Linked DNA regions of Homo sapiens: region 2 is linked to region 1. Evidence: fine-mapped expression QTL. Tissue or cell type: whole blood. Region 1 holds a variant in brackets; the other region holds the start of a gene. All regions are shown on one strand. Distances are from middle to middle.

Region 1 (8,106 bases):
TTGTGGGAATTGGCTCCTGCAGTTATGAAGGCCAAGGAGTCCCGTGATCTGTTGCCTGCAAACTGGAGAACCAGGAAAGCTGGTGGTGTCATTTTCTTTCAGTGCAAAGTGCAAAGGCTTGAGAACCAGGACCTCTGATGTTTGAGAGCAAGAGAAAACGGATGACCCAGCTCAAAGAGTGTGAGCCAATCCATCACCTTCGTCTGCCTTTTTGTTCTATTTGGGCCTTCACTGGATGGGATGGTGCCCACCCCATGGGTAAGGGAGATCTTCTCACTCAGTCTACTGACTCCTGTGCTAATCTCTTCCAGAAATACCCTCACAGACAGACCTTGAAATGATGGGTTACCGGCTACCTGGGCATCCCTTAGCCCAGTCAAGTTGACACATGAAATTAGCCAACATACCTACCCTAGCAACATTAGGGCTATCATATCCACAGACACGACATTTGATTTAGGTTCTTTGTCACAAACGCTTCCTTTCCACAGCGTACAAAGCTGAAGCCCCAGATGCTATTGTGTCAGCAGCTTACTTTTTCGATTTCTTTCATCACCCATCCGAGTCCCTGCCTGCAATGAAAATTATTCCACTTCCCCTGTCATATGGAGCACTAGTAATTCCCCTGCTCTGCAGGATGCAAATTTTAGGCTGTCCCTTCCTATAGGATGCTAGTTTCACCACTTTTTGTTTTGATAACAGAGGTAATTATGTTGAGCCCAGTTATTTTGCTTTTGATTTGTTTCTTACCTATCAGTGCTATGTCTTTGCAGTCAAGGCGTGTGAGACAGAGCGTGACGTCCCTGCACTGGCTTCCCCAGGATCCTGTCTTCTTTTTGAGGCTCTCCACACTCTTCCTCCTCCAGTGAATTGTGCACTGTTATGTTTCAGGTAGTTCTGAGGACAGCCTTGATGCCGGCGCTGGGCAAAAATAAAGGGCTCCCACTTCCACTCTCAGCTCCCAGAGGGATGTCCTTGGCCGTATCGCCAGGACATCTGCCCAGGAAAGGAACAGGGGAGTATAAGAAGATATCAGCTGCAAAGACCATCCTTCATTGTAAGAACGATGCTGGAGGAGAGGACGTGGAGGGATAGGGGGCTTGTTCTCTCCCCTGTTCCACTCCACCAAACTTCCCAGAGAAAAACAATTTTTTTTTTCTTTTTTGAGACAAGGTCTTGCTCTGACACAGAGGCTGGAGTGCAGTGGTGCAATCACGGGCTCACTGCACCCCTGAACTCCTGGGCTCAAATGATCCTCCTGCCCCAGCCTCCTGAGTAGCTGGAACTACAGGCATGTGCCACCATGCCCTGCTAATTTATTTTTATTTTTGTAGAGATGGAATCTCCCTATATTGCCCAGGCTAGTGTTGAACTCCTGGGCTAAAGTGACCCTCTTGCCTCAGCCTCCCAAAATGCTGGGATTACAGATGTGAGCCACTGACCCTGGCAGAAAAAGATGTTTTAATTGCCAGAAACATATGTGGAAATACTGAAAGAACAAGAAATTAGCTGCCTAAATTTTGTTACCTTTTTTTTTTTTTTTTTTGAGATGGAGTCTCGCTCTGTCGCCCAGGCTGGAGTGCAGTGGCACAATCTCGGCTCACTGCAAGCTCCGCCTCCTGGGTTCACGCCATTCTCCCGCTTCAGCCTCCCAAGTAGCTGGGACTGTGGGTGCCCGCCACCACTCCCGGCTAATTTTGTTTTTGTATTTTTAGTAGAGACAGGGTTTCACCATGTTAGCCAGGATGGTCTCAATCTTCTGACCTCGTGATCCGGCCGCCTCAGCCTTCCAAAGTGCTAGGAATACAGGTGTAAGCCACCACACTTGGCCAGTAACGATAATAATTCTTTTTTTTTTTGACACGGGATCTCACTCTGTTGCCCAGGTTGGAATGCAGTTGTGCGATCTTGGCTCACTGCAACCTCTGCCTCCTAGGTTCAAGTGATTCTCCTGCCTCAGCCTCCTAAGTAGCTGGGAGTACAGGCATGCACCACCACACCTGGCTAAGTTTTGTACTTTTAGTAGAAACAGAGTTTTGCCAGGTTGCCAAGGCTGGCCTTGAACTCCTTGGCTCAGGGGTTCTGCCCACCTCAGCCTCCCAAAGTGCTGGGATTACAGGCGTGAGCCACTGCAACTGGCCACCTTTTTATAATTCTTATGACACTGTAAATAATCTCAAAAGTTCCCAATTAGATAGAAAATAAAAGTAAAGAAAAATGGGCCAGGTACAGTGACTCACATCTGTAATACCAGCGCTTTGGGAGGGCGAGGCAGGAGGTTTGCTTGAGGCCAGGAGTTCAAGACAAGTCTGGGCAACATAGTGAGACCCCATCTCTACAAAAAATTTAAAAATTAGCTGGACATGGTGATGCACACCTGTAATTCTAGCTACCTGGGACTGAAGCAGGAGGATTGCTTGAGTCTAGGAGTTTGAGGTTGCAGTGAGCTATGACTGTGCCACTGTACTCTAGGCTGGGTGACAGAATGAGACCTTATCTCAAAAAAAAAATTATAAGAGAAAAATGAAGAACATTTTTTATGTAATTGACTATAGTACAGAATAGAATTGGAATTTAAAGTTGCTATTGTAGTTATTTTATTTTATTATTTTGGAGACTGGGTCTTACTATGTTTCCCAAGCTGGTCAGAAACTCCTGGTCTTAAGTAATCCTCCCACCTCAGCCTCCCAAAGCCCTGGGATTACACCAGGTGAACCCTCCTGCCCGGCTCTGTAATTTTATATTACTTATTCTTAATATATTTTCTTTAAAAAATATTTGAAAATAATTGTTATTTAAATTACCTAACCTTGTATATTAATTAGTTCCTGATATTTCTTAAATAAAGGATTCCTGTGCTGTGCACTGATGTGTAACTCAATCTGCACACCGTGTAAAACTCTTGGATTGGAACAAATCTAAGAGATGAAATTTTTTCCAGGATAAAGCTGAACCTAACCGCTCACCCAGTGTGAATATTCTCTTTACAGCCTGTTAAACAACACAGCTATAGAGGCACATGTGGTTTTGTGTGTATGTGTGTGTGGCTACGAAGGGTTAAAATCTCAGGTTCTCCTAATTCTGTGAGCATGTGGTGGCCAGCCCAGAGCCAGATTGAGCCATGTTAATTTCCCAGAAGATTTCAAGGAATTATTTTTTGAAAAGGGAAGTTTGGACTAATAAAAACCAGGATAACCTCCGGCAGTCACATGGAAAAGAACAGAGACAAATTACTCCCGGTTTGTTCGACATTGTGGCCGGGGGCTTTCTCTAGCCAGACCAGACTGCTTTGTTTTTCCTTCATTCCAAATAGAGGAGTGATTTCAGTCATGTGCTGGGAAAGGTAAGAGCAGCAAAGTGATGCTGAGTGCTCCTCTGTGCTCTCTTTCTTGGGTTCGGCTCTTCCAGAGGCGCGGTAGGCGCTGCGAGGGCTCCGGCGTCATCAGGCCCCAGGTTTGGATTCCTGTTTGGCCACTTTGGGGAAATTTATGTTTCCCCTCTGAGCTTCAATTTCTATAACTATTAAGGAAGATAATTAACCTCATAGCCATCATGTTGAAGATTTGGATGTGATAAGGTCTGTAACGTGCCTGGCACATAGTAAAGACAAAAAAAATGCATAGAAATGCCTGGCTTACCCTCGGATCAGCTCCTCTCTTCAGGGTCTCATAGCTGTGGAAACCTCACCTCTTTTGTAAATAGCTCCCTGCAGGAGCTATTTGTAACCAGATGATTGACAGAGGGTTTGTGTACACATTAAGGCATTTTAAAATAAAATATCGGTTATCTATTGGCTATTGGCTATGTAACAAATTTCCCCCAAAATTAGGAACTTAAAATAATCTTCTTTTTTTTTTTTTTTTTTTTTTTTTTTTAAGAAACAGGATCTCAGTCTGTTGCCGAGGCTGGAGTGCAGTGTTGTGATTGTGGCTCACTGGCTCGTGGTAGCCTCAACCTCCTGGACCCAAGCAATTCTCCTACCTCAGCCTCCTGAGTAGCTAGAACTACAAGCATGCACCACCATGCCCAGCTAATTTTTTTTTTTTTTGGCTTTTTTACAGAGACAGGGATCTCACTATGTTGCCCAGGCTGGTCTCAAACTCCTGAGTCCAAGCGATCCTCCTGCCTTGGCCTCCTAAAGTGCTGAAATTATGGGTGTGAGTCACTGCACCCAGAGAAAACAGAAACAACCATTTTATTATGCTGACAGATTCTGTAGGTCAGGAAAGCACAGCTCCATGATGTCTATGGCCTCGACTGGGAGAACTGAAAAGTGACAGGGGGCGGAGGGCGGGTGGCGGTGACCAGCCCACTGGGGGAAGAAATCATTTAGAGATACGTTCATGCACATTCCCAGCTGTCAGTTAGGACCTCACACTAGGAACACCCACACATGGCACCTCCATGTGGCTTGGGCTTCCATACAGTATGGCGGTTTCGTACTTACATGGCAACTGATGGCCTGAAGGCAAGTTTCCCAAGAAAACCAGGCAAAAACAGTACCACTTTTTAGGT[C/T]CTAGTCTTGGAAGAAGTCACATAGCATCACTTCTGCTGGGTCTCAAGCCCTTCCAAGTTCAAGGGGAGGGAACGTGGACTTCACCTCTTGATGGCAAGAATGTCAGTCATATTGTGAGAACATGTAAAATGGGATATGTGGCATCTTTGGAAAATACAATCTGCCCCAGGGTTGAGTGAGTCAATAGTAAGTCCTCAAAACATTTCACTGGACCTGGTGAAGTATGAAAAATATATTTGAGGAGAATAGCTACAAGGCCATTGCCACTGTGGTTCGGGTGGGAAATAATGAAGGCCTGAAAAAAGCAGCAACAGAGAGAATGGAGAGAAGGAGGTGGCTGTCAGAGTTGGCCCTGGGATAGAATCACTCTCCTGCATGCAGCGCAGAGGAATATGAAAAGGAGAAAGAAGAGTCCCAAGGCTCTGACATTTTGAACCTGAGTGCCCAGCAGGGTGGGGCTGCTGTTATCTGAAATAGGGAAGTCACAGAGAGAAGCAGGAAACCTCCTCTTCCCTCTTTGCTCACCACATGCCTGTCCCTTCCCCAGCGACTTGGGCGTATGCGGCCTCAATCTATTTTGCATGCATGTCCTTTGCTTTTCACAGATCTGGACATGAGCTCAGATCCTGGGGCCTCAGTAAATCCCTCCAGGGCTGGGACGACGACCTTTCAGAGATGACATCAAGGGCTGTGCCTGGAAATGAGGCCATTTATGGAGCTGATTTTGAGTCCAAATCTGCTGTTTACTTTCAGCTTTACCTGTATAACTAAACGTCCAGGAAAAAGCAGTTGGACATGTGGAGCTTCTGCGAACTTTTTCAGTATCATCAGGAAAAGGCATGAGCAAACATCGCCTGATGAAGGAGCTCAAGTTCGCTTTTTGTGGCACTTGGAGGTCAGGCCCTTAGGACTCCATACTTAATCATGTTCTTTTTTGTTTGTTTTGAGATGGAGTCTTGCTCTGTCCCCCAGGCTGGAGTGCAGTGGCATGATCTTGGCTTACTGCAAGCTCTGCCTCCCGGGCTCACGCCATTCTCCTGCCTCAGCCTCCTGAGTAGCTGTGACTACAGGTGCCCGCCAACACGCCTGGCTAATTTTTTTGTATTTTTAGTAGAGACAGGGTTTTACCATGTCGCCCAGGCTGGTCTCCAACTCCTGACTTTAAGTGATCCGCCCACCTCGGCCTCCCAAAGTGCTGGGATTACAGGCGTGAGCCACTGCACCCGGCCAGGAATTACTTTTAGAATCATCATGTGAACCATTATCACTCTATACCTTGTTTTTTGACCCCAACTTGCCTTACCCACTATATAACTCAGGGCTCTTTTATTTACAAGTGACAAGAATTAAATTAAGTGAAAAAGCAAATTTATGGGCTCGTATAACTGGAAGGCTGGAGCATCTGGCCTCAGGTGTGACTGGATGCAGGAGCTCAAATGATGTCCTTGCATCTCCACCCTTTTCACTTCTCTCTGTAGGTTCAACTCATTCTTGATCACTGACAATGGACTTCCTGCATGCGCTACAAGCAACCCTCCCAGGTTAGTAACCCCAGGGAAAAGAGAGCCTGCTCCCACTTACCCCTTCTTCCCCACTCCCACCACCATTCATACCTCATTTCTGGGCAGGACTCTGATTGGTGCAAACTGAGCTATGTGCCCATTATTGGGCTTAAAAAAATAGGGAAAAAGCACATGTTCTGGGCAGGCAAAAATAGTAGTGGCCAGTGGCTACCTCACCTGCTTGGCCATCATCCTTGACGCTGCATAGACTCGAACTATTTCCCAAACCTACCCTGGTGCTTTGTTAGAAACACTGATTCTCAAGCCCCCATCCCAGGCCTACCAAGCCAGACCCCACAGTTTAACAAGATCCCCAGGTGATTCTTCTGTACCTTGAAGTTTGGGACAAGCTGAGTAAAAGGAGAAAGGGAGCAGGGCACAGTGGCTCACGCCTGTAATCCCAGCACTTTGGGAGGCCGAGGCAGGTGGATCACCTGAGGTCAGGAGCTCGAGACCAGCCTGACCAACATCGTGAAACCCCATCTTTACTAAAAAATACAAAAATTAGCTGGGTGTGGTGGCAGGTGCCTGTAATCCCAGCTACTCAGGAGGCTGAGGCAGGAGAATCGCTTGAATCCGGGAAGTGGAGATTGCAGTGAGCCAAGATTGTGCCATTGCACTCCAGCCTGGGTGGACAGAGCAAGATTCCGTCTCAAGAAAAAAAACAAACAAAAAAAGGAGATGGGCAATGGCTGTGAAGGAGCTTTCCAGAGACGAGCCTGAGCAGGTTCTGAGCATGGCAGCATGATGGTGGCAGGCAGCCAGCCTCCCCAGGTTAGCCCACAAGGAAGCAGCAGGCCTGGGTACTGCATGGATACCCCAGGCAGGGACTCAGAGACCAGAACTGGGGTACAAAGTCACAGCTAGCGTAAGCCATGACTCTGGTTCTGCTCAAACGTTGAACAGGCAACACCTTGAGTTCCCTGAGTGCAGCAGGCAGGGTGCCGTAACCTGGGTAGGCTAAGCCTGTGGAGGGTGTCTTCAGCAGCTTCTGCAGAGAAGAAAAGAAAGCTTTGAGGCCAGGAGAGTCCATTCCCAGAGTTTTACTGCGGGCAAAAGGTGAAATGACTTTTCTATTTTTTATTTTTTAATAAACTTTATAGTCGGTTGTTAAAGTGTTTCTGAAATTTGGATCCTGTCTAGTTGCAAATAGAGCCACTTCATGCATAAGAGTTTATGCAAAACACAATCATGCCTAGACAGACCACGCCCATTTCCAAGTGAGTTATTCATAGGAGTTAGATGTGGAAATTAGAGAAATTCTTAGTTGACTCCATCAGTTCCCATATCTTTTATTTATTTATTTTAAAGAGAGTATTCCTGTAAGGAGGGCTGCAGAAATGAAAGGCAATGGAAGTTTAATTAGATAGAAAGGTTTCGAGGCCTGGTGGTCTGGGCCAAAGACTGAAATTGCTTCCTGCCGCTTGGCTCAAGGCTCTGAGTCCTTTGCAAACCCAACATGGGACCATGACACCGGCCATAATGCCAGGTGCTGGGGAGCAGCTTCCCCCGGGACTCCAGGCTGTCCTGTCCTTTCATGGGCCTCTCGCGTGGTGTTCCTCACATGCATGCTCCTTTCAGGACTGCACCACAGCCCCACAGTCCTGTGAGACTGGAAGATGCTTTTGCTGTCAATAGAATTCCAAGCCCTAGAGTGTGGGGGTTATGGAAACAGGTTCTAAAATCAGACACACTGAGTTCAAATCCTTTTTTTTTTGCCACTTATTAGATGCCTGATGTTGAGTGGCTACATAACTTTAGTCTCCTCAACTACAAAATAGGGTTAGTGATAGGTTGGTTATGAGGATTACACAAGAAAGTGTACAGGAAGTAAGGAGGTAGAGGTTGTGTCATTTTCCTAATCATATTCTGAGCTCTTGGCCCAGCACTTAACCAAATGTTAAAGCAGTTAGCTCTGCTCAGAACATGGCAAGCACTTAATCAATAGGAGCTATTATTATTATTATTTAGTGTCTATAATAAAGTTTTATTAGAACATAGCCATACCCATTTGTTCATACATTGCTA
Region 2 (8,106 bases), 200 kb after region 1:
GTAATCAATTACAGTATACAATAACAGTAATTCACATTTTTAAACACACAGTTCAACACTGCTGAAGCTGCAATATCCTTTTTCATCCCAAGCAAACCTTCATAAGACAGTGTCCCAGTGATCCCAGTGTACTTTCAGCATTTCTCTCACTGGGAACTGTCAGAAAACCAGAAGTTGCCACAGAAAGTTTTAAGTCAACTGCTTGTTTAAAAATAGATAATCCAGCATTTCAGAAATTTTCCATTTGGGTCTAAAAGCATTCAGGTTTCCAACAGCCAGAAAAAATTCATGCAATTTGAGACATATAAAGAGGCTAATAAAACTGGAGGGAATTTCTACTTAAAAAAAAAAACAAAAAACAAAAAAACTTTGTTGGGGGGGAAAAAAGAGCTCAAAAGACAATGCAGTGTTGACAAAATTAAGCCATATGAAAGCATTTTGTGACAGGACGATTTGTTTAAAAGGTTCTTATTGGCTTACTTCCCCTATCCCCTCAAAGGAAAAACACCTCTCTATTCTGACTTGCTCTAAAGTTTCTTTTATCAGAATGCTAAATTAGTGAGATTCTCATGCTATTCTAAAGTGCAAAAACAAGTTAATATCCCAACTTTTTATTTCCAGGAAACAAGACTGCTTTTAGACCGTACCACAACTATATAGAGATCTATTTATATATATGTATATATATATATATTATTTATATATATATAAAATTATTTCCAAAGTTCTTGAGAGCTATCTTCTAAGGTCCAGTCTCTGACAGTAGGCAAGCTCAGTGCTTCGCTTTTGACCGACAAGGAGTTCACCAACTCACAGTGGAACTTGCGAATGTGTCTGTACAGGTCCCCGGACTGCGTGAACCTGCGCTCGCACCACTTGCAGGCGTGCGGCTTCTCGCGGGTGTGCACCACGGCATGGCGGCTCAGGTTGTGCGAGTACTGGAAGCTCTTGCCGCACTGGGTGCATGTGTAGGGCTTCTCCCCCGAGTGAGTCCTCTCGTGGCGCTTGAGGGTGTACATGCAAGAGAAAGTCTTCCCACACAGCGAGCACGTGGGCACGTTGACATCGGCGGCGGGCTTGCTGCGGATGCCGTCCTGCTCGCGGAAGTGCGTGCTCAGGTGGATCTGCAGGATGTGGGGGCTGGGGAAGACCTTGTTGCACAGGGGGCACATGAAGATCTGGCCCGCGGGGCTCAGGATGTTGGAGACGTAGGGGAGCAGACTGCTCTCCATGCCTCCCTCCACCTGGACACGCTCGCTCTCTGGGGTCATCATCTCATCATCACTGGCTTTGTCCTCCCGGTCCAGCTCCCTCAAGACCGAGTCCTCCCTCAGGGGAGCCAGATGGGCCGGCTCATACTGTACCCTGTTATTAGTGCTCACACTTTCTTTCACAGTGCTATGTTCCATGTCATAGTCATTAGTGCCAACATCACTCTCATCACAGGAAGCCTCTTTCTCCACCTTCACCTGCACCAGGTTGCTTCTCAGCACGTCCTGTGAAGAGAAATAAGAGCTGTTCAGATTTTCAACTCCTGAAAGGCTGGACTTGACAGACAGGTCCAGCACACAGTCAACATCTGCCGAATCCCTCACGGAGGTGACAGACCTCTGGGACAAAGACTCTGTTGAGCTGCAGGGGCTGGCTACTGTTTTTCCAGCTGCTGTGGCGTGTGGCTCTGCCTCTCCGCCAGCCTGGGGGATGCCTGCTGAGTCTGAGGGCAATCGCATCCACATGTTCCCAGGCTCGGCCGCCAAGTCCCTTTTGCTGGGCAGGATGTTCAATTTTTCATCTTCTCCTTCATCTTCATCACTGGGCAAATCGCCTGCTATGTGGCTGCTGCCATCGGAGAGACTCTCGACTTTGTCCGAACAACTTGAAGCATCTTCTTCCTTTTTGGTGCTGTCTGCCTCCGTGGTGGCTTTCTCTTTCAGCTTCTTTTTGCAGACTTTGACAATGTCATACATGTGGAGATAACTGGCAGCTGCTAGCACGTCTTCAATGGGCAAGTCTTTGAACTGGAGTTTCCCTTCATACATGAATTCAAGCAGGAGAGCGAAAGCGGGGGCTGTAACAATGTCGCTGTTCAGATGAACAATGTCTCTTTTGTCCAGCTGGTCCTTGTAAAAGAGGTGGAAATACATGCTGCATGAAGCCAGTACAGCTCGGTGCGCTCGGAACTGGGCATCTCCCACCAGAACAGTGCAGTCACAAAGAAAACCCTGGTGTCTCTGCTCGCTCAGACACTGTAGCAAATGTCTACTATGGTCTGGAAACTCCATACTGTCTTCATAACCTGGGGAGAGAGGAATTTCTCATTAGAGCCTGGTCAGGAACAACTTTTCAGCGCTCCAGTCCCCATATAAAAAAATTAATTCCGCTTTGGCCGCCGTGGTACATGTCCCTGAATTTTAATCAGGCTTATGACCCAAGCACCACCAAATCACACGGACAAGACCTAAATGCCAGAAGGAAAATGCACACTTTCTGAACTTCCTCACCCCCGCCAAAGAGCTTCCGACGCATCTCCATCTTCCTTGAACCCAAGTTCTAAAAGCCTTCCTTTAACTACAGTCTCTCACTAAGAATAAGAATTTAGATCTCTTCCAGAAGAAATTTAATTAACTCTACTTATCAAATTATGTCCCACAAAACCTACAAAATAGCTTTAATTTCAAAGGGAACAACTCATATAATAAACAAAGAAAAGTCCCAAACATATCCTGGAACATACAAGAAAACTTGTTCAACCATCCTTTTTATTACTTTTGCTACCTGACTGTGCTTAGAAAGCACAGTTTAAACACACACACACACATTTGGCTGAATCAAGAAAAAAAAATGAAATTGCATAATTAGTCCAGAAATTAGCAAACAACTTACTTTTAAAGTCAGGGTGTTACAACAAAAGCCCTGTGTATAAAAACAGATGTTAATGCCTTCAGATTTGCAGGTATAGCACACATGTACGAGATCAGAAGGAGCTGCACCAACAGATGGAAAAGATCATCTTTACTATGAACAAATCCAAAGATTTTTCAAAACGAACTGAGAAAAAAGTAGTTACATTTCTTTGTAGAAACTGTACTTTCAGAATATTAGGAACCAGAGGGGCTTTACTGAACTCCGAAAATTCTCATCTAAACTTTGATCCGTTGCAAGGCAAAATGAGTTTCATATTGAAATTAATTCAAACTTTTAAAAATAAAGGCATACAGCGCTTAAATAAAACTCAAAAGCTTTACAGGTTCAACGTTTTTTTTTAAGCCTTTTTAGAAAAAGAGAACCTTTTTTTTTTTCCTGGTTCTGCCTTACCTCAGCCAACAGAAAATACTTTGTTTCAATATAATTTGATATATTTCTGTTTTCCCACTAGCTTCTATTCTTGCAAATATTCATCATTGCCCTTGTTTTGTGATGAGGGAAAGTGAAATGGAGGGAGGAGAAAGGCAAAGATGTACAAAGGGTCAGAATTCAACTGCAGTGGGTAAACTCCTGAAAAATAAAGAAGACCCGACTTCCCCTTTCCTGTGACCAGAAGCAAGCCTCCACACCACCCATCTCAGCAAGTGCATTTTGGGAATAGATACACTTAATTTAATATTCAGAAATTACTTCCTTTCTTCTTGTTCTTCTACACTTTGCCCAAGACAGACTAAAACTTTATCCTAACCCCAGACACATTCTGCAAGATGCCACTGCTAGAATAAACTAAGATTTACAATACAATCACTTTAAGTGCCCCACAGCTAACATCAATCCTAATCCTTGAGAAGGCTAAAAATAAAGATTGGAGGGCAGCTCACAAGGTAGCCGTGATCAAATTAGGAGGCTGAGAGGACAGAGAGGGACGAAGAAGGAAGCTTATAAACATCTGATCCAGCTGACTGTGGCCATATGGCAGCTGCTGCCCAGATAAAGAGATTAAGAATAGAGGAGTGCGATTACAGCTGTCTGGCCAATTCAGGCAGCTCAAATCTACAAGTTCTAAATTAGTCGCTAACACAAAAACTCCTGCAAATAATTATTGTTATGCTGAAATAAAAGATCTCTTAAATATATATTTGAAAGAGAAATGAGGAAACCAGTCAAACTATTCTCCTGGGGACAAAAGTTTGGTTTTTTTTTCTTCTTCTTAAAAACCTGCAGTTTCAACAGCACTACAGCTGTATGTTTCAGTAGTGCTGCTCAATGTTTTGAAGAATAAAGTTTCACAGAGGAATTAATTATACAACAATCTAGCTGCTTAACTAGAATAATCTTCTCATATAAGTTTGAATGCTGGATTCCAGTTTACTATTTCCCCACCACCACCACCCCAATCAAATCTAAATAGCAGTGAACAACAAAAAAGCATTTTAATCCAACGTGATTTCCAAAAGCAGCATTTTAAAGCCTTTCTTAACATTTCAAAACTTGAAATATTTGTGTATTAAAGTTATTTACTCGCTCAAGTAAAAGGGATAAAAAATTAAAACTAAACAAGCTCAAGACTTTCAACTCCAGTAAGATGTTCATTTAATACTCAATTTCATATATTATTCCTAAACTGGGTTAGAAAAGTAATGTGATTTTTAAAATTAAATAAACAAAACACCAAAACAGAAATATGCTCAATCTAATCTCTTGCTACTCCTACCTTTAGGACACATAAACCTGATTAAGTCCTTTCCTCTGAGTCCTGCTGGCTCCAGGTCTGTTACATCGGTGGAAAAAAAGCAGACTAAGAGAGACAGATGCAAAGTGGAGATGATGTTAGAGAGGAATGAGATACCTTCTCCACCACAGATCCGCACACACTAACTCCCTGTCTGTGTGTTAGAATAAAAGGCTGAGGGATGGCAGGCTGTCAGCTGCTCTGACATCATGTTCAGATGGAAATGCTACCTCCAGCTGTGCTCCTTTTAATGCCATATGCTACTCCTCTACACTCCTGCCACCAGCTTTTTCTTAGGAGAACTTTTCTCTTCTGTTAGTATAAACAAAATACTTCAAAGTCTTCCTTTTTTTCCAAACTTTCTAACAGAAGAAATTGAAAAACTCAGCATATGGAGTTCTACTGTATTTATGGAATAGCAACACTTCTGTCTTAAGTTGGTGGACTGGCTTACATACTGACAGCACACTCAAGCCACGGTGCTATTCAGGAAATCCAGATTCACTTTTATTCAACTCCAACGTTTAGTTTCTAAAGCAGTTTAGGGATATTTTTAAACCAACCCATTTGACATCTCCAGTCCCATTTCAACATTATTACCGCACTTTTTTATTTTTTTCTGCTGAGATAATGGTATACATGTCTCAAATGTTGGCAGACTTGTTCAGAACTATTACTTCAGACTGGTTCACCTTATTATTTCACTCTTATGTAATTACTTATCTACAACTACCTTCTCAGAAAAATTTCTTACACTGCCACAGTCAATGCAAATTTCAATTCTCGGTACCAACAAGCTGAAACTGCACTTTCTGAAATCCTGGAAAGTACTTCAGTTCAACGAGACCAATTAATAAACTGATACAACCTGCTCCAGTCACTTAAAATGAATGCTGCACCTGCATATCTGATCTTTCTGCTCAGAAAAAGCAGAACCTTGCCTTCCCCTTGATCTGTGTCCCTTAACAATCTTTTTTTTCTTTGGGGGGGGGTCACTCTAATGTTTATGATCACAAGAAAATCTTTGTGTGGGGGGAAGCCAGGTCTAGTAAGTTTGAGAACTTTTCAGCCAGTTTGTGGGTCTTTTCTAATAGCTGATGAAACTGTAACGCGACCCGGGCTGGGCTGACCGGTACCGGGCAGGGTGCTGCGACATCTCTGAATGTCAAATACATCTCCTCAGACTCTTGGGAGGGCGAGGGGTAGAAAAGGAACTGGGGCCTGAGGCGCCAGCGTCCCAGCCCTGGTGATAACCACTTCGTTCCCATTAGAAAGCCGTGGCGGAGAGTTAAAGAGTAACAAAACCCGACGACTCCGTCCTGTCCTTCTCGCTTTCCCAAAGTCACAAACCTAACTTTCTCCAACTTCGCGGTGAGTGACATAATTATGAACACTTAGTCCAGGAGACATCCTCGGGAGATCAATTTCTTCCCAGCCACACCACCTATTCTCCACAAATGCCCTCGACCCATTCCAATATATCAGACATTAATCACCCCATTTACCCAGTGGGGTGGGGGGTGAGTGACAGTTTAATGAGTCCCGGGCACCGCAATGGGCCAGCAACTCCCACTCCACAAATCAACCCCTTCACGTCTCGCTACCGCGGATCCATAGAGGTTTTGTGAGGTTGGGGTTTTGTTTTTCAGAGAGGTGGGGGCGGGGGTGCCGAGTGGGGAAGCAATGCAAATCTTTACGTAGTTCGCCGTGCATAAAACACACGGGGAAAGAGGAAGGTTAAAACCACAGGGAAGGAGGTGGAGGGCGCAGAGCCGGTGCAGCAGGAAAACACCTTAAACAACAGAGGAGAAAACAGACCCGGGTCACGGCAACAACAAAAGAAAAGTCGTAAGAAGCAGCCAGCGGGAGGAGAGTGGTTGCTACCGCTTCCCCGATGCCGCGACGCGCGAGCCCCCGGGGCCTCCGGGCAACTGCACCAGCCCGGGAGGGCCCCCTCCCCCGCCGGCCCCCTCCCCCGGGCGCCACTGCAGCTGCACCGGTCCCCGGAGCCGCGGCCGTCCCGGGCGCCACTGCAGCTGCGGCTGCTCCCAAGCCCCCTCCCCCAGCCCGCCGCCCTCCGCACCCGAGAGGCGCCACCGCAGCTGCACCGGCCGGGAGCCCGCCCCGCGCCGCAGCTGCACCGGCCCGCGGGGGCGCGGCGCGGAGCCGGGAACCCGCACCCCGCCCGACCCCGCAGCTGCAGCGGCCCCGTCCCCGCGCCCGGGCCTCCCGCAGCTGCGCCGCCCCCCGCCGCCCCAACAGCTCCAACCACACAAACTAACTCCACTCGCGGGGGCGCCCCCGACCCGGCCCGCCCTCCGCCCGCGCCGCCCAGCCGGCCGGGGCCGCACAGCTGGCGCCCCCCGCCCGCCGGGGTGCCGGGGCGCGGAGGGGGCGCCAGGTCAGGGGCCAGGGGCCGGCGCCGGGACTCACACGGAGCGGCCCTAAGTCACCGCGTCCCCGCCGCCGCCGCGTCCTCCGCCTCCTCCTCCTCCTCCTCCCGGCCGCCGCCGCCGCCGCCGGACTTGGTGGGCTTCCTCCGGCTCTTGCCCCCCTCCCTCCCGGCCCCCCCACCCCCCAATCCCGGCTCCGTCGCCCGCTCCCCCCCGCCCCTCCCTCCCGCCCACCCCCGCTGGCAGCCGGAGGAGCGCGGCGGAGCGAAGAGGGCCCCACTCTCAACGGCTCCCCATGGCAGCAGCCCAGCGGCGGCCGCAGCCTGCCAGACACAGCGAGGGAGCGAGCGAGGGAGCGAGCGCGGAGCCGCCGGGCCGGGTGGGGGGGCGGGGGCGGGGGGGGGGCGGGCGCGGGGGAGGGGGAGGGGAGGGGGCGGGAGGACGCACCACGCACGCACGCGGCGGCGCCGGCCAGATGTTCCCCCCACCCTCAGTCCGCCCCTCTCCTTCCCCTGCCTCCCTCCCTCCGGGCGTTGGGCTTCTGCGATTGACCGAAAGCGGCTGGACCGGCGCTCCCCGCCCGCCCCCAGCCCTCAGACTCCTCCAATGGGAAGGCGGCTCTTCGGGAAGGCGGAGGGGGTGGTGGGCAGTCGTCGGACTGACAAGGGGGCCCAGCCAATGGGGGTGGCGAGCCGTAGCTGCCCTCCCGCGCGTTCCAATCGCAGGCAGCAACTGTTGGGGTGGGCGGGGCTCGGGCGGGCGGGGATCCGGAGCGAAGCGGCGCGGGGCGGAGTCCTCGGGCGCAGCGGCGGTGGCAGCAGCGGCGCCCCTCTGGGTGACTTGGCCGTGAGAAAGTGAAAGGAGCCCGCAGGCGGCGGCGACAGCTGCGCTGGGAGGGGCTTGTTTCCAGGCTCAGAGGCCCCGCGCACTCTGCGGGTGCGGAGCGAGCTTTTCGGTGTGCACTGTGACAACCACAAACACACTTTTGAACGTAGTGGGGCTTGGCTGCTGCGAGTTACGCAGGTATCCTGGAGAGGCAGGGCACCCGGGGACACG

What was found. PIP is the estimated chance that this variant, and not a neighbour inherited with it, causes the effect.
Region 2: it holds the start of ZBTB18, and the variant in region 1 is fine-mapped to the expression of ZBTB18 in whole blood (TOPMed, PIP 0.93).

What each region holds. Positions count from the first base shown.
Region 1 is chr1:244,251,602-244,259,707 of GRCh38, reverse strand. LOC105373262 (a long non-coding RNA gene) reads left to right here. Exons shown (of 3, transcript XR_949343.3): 2 at 5,995-6,057. Among named protein-coding and RNA genes, the nearest start is that of SPMIP3, 97 kb to the left of the region's middle. The variant C/T (reference allele first, on the strand shown) is at 4,516.
Region 2 is chr1:244,047,978-244,056,083 of GRCh38, reverse strand. It overlaps ZBTB18 (zinc finger and BTB domain containing 18), which reads right to left and starts at 4,801. Exons shown (of 2, transcript NM_205768.3): 1 at 4,640-4,801; 2 at 1-2,296. The coding sequence starts at 4,652. The coding sequence ends at 714. LOC124904570 (a long non-coding RNA gene) reads left to right here and starts at 7,843. Exons shown (of 2, transcript XR_007066975.1): 1 at 7,843-8,073. RefSeq lists enhancers at 3,525-4,026, 5,743-5,792, 8,003-8,106 and silencers at 5,473-5,562, 7,713-7,832.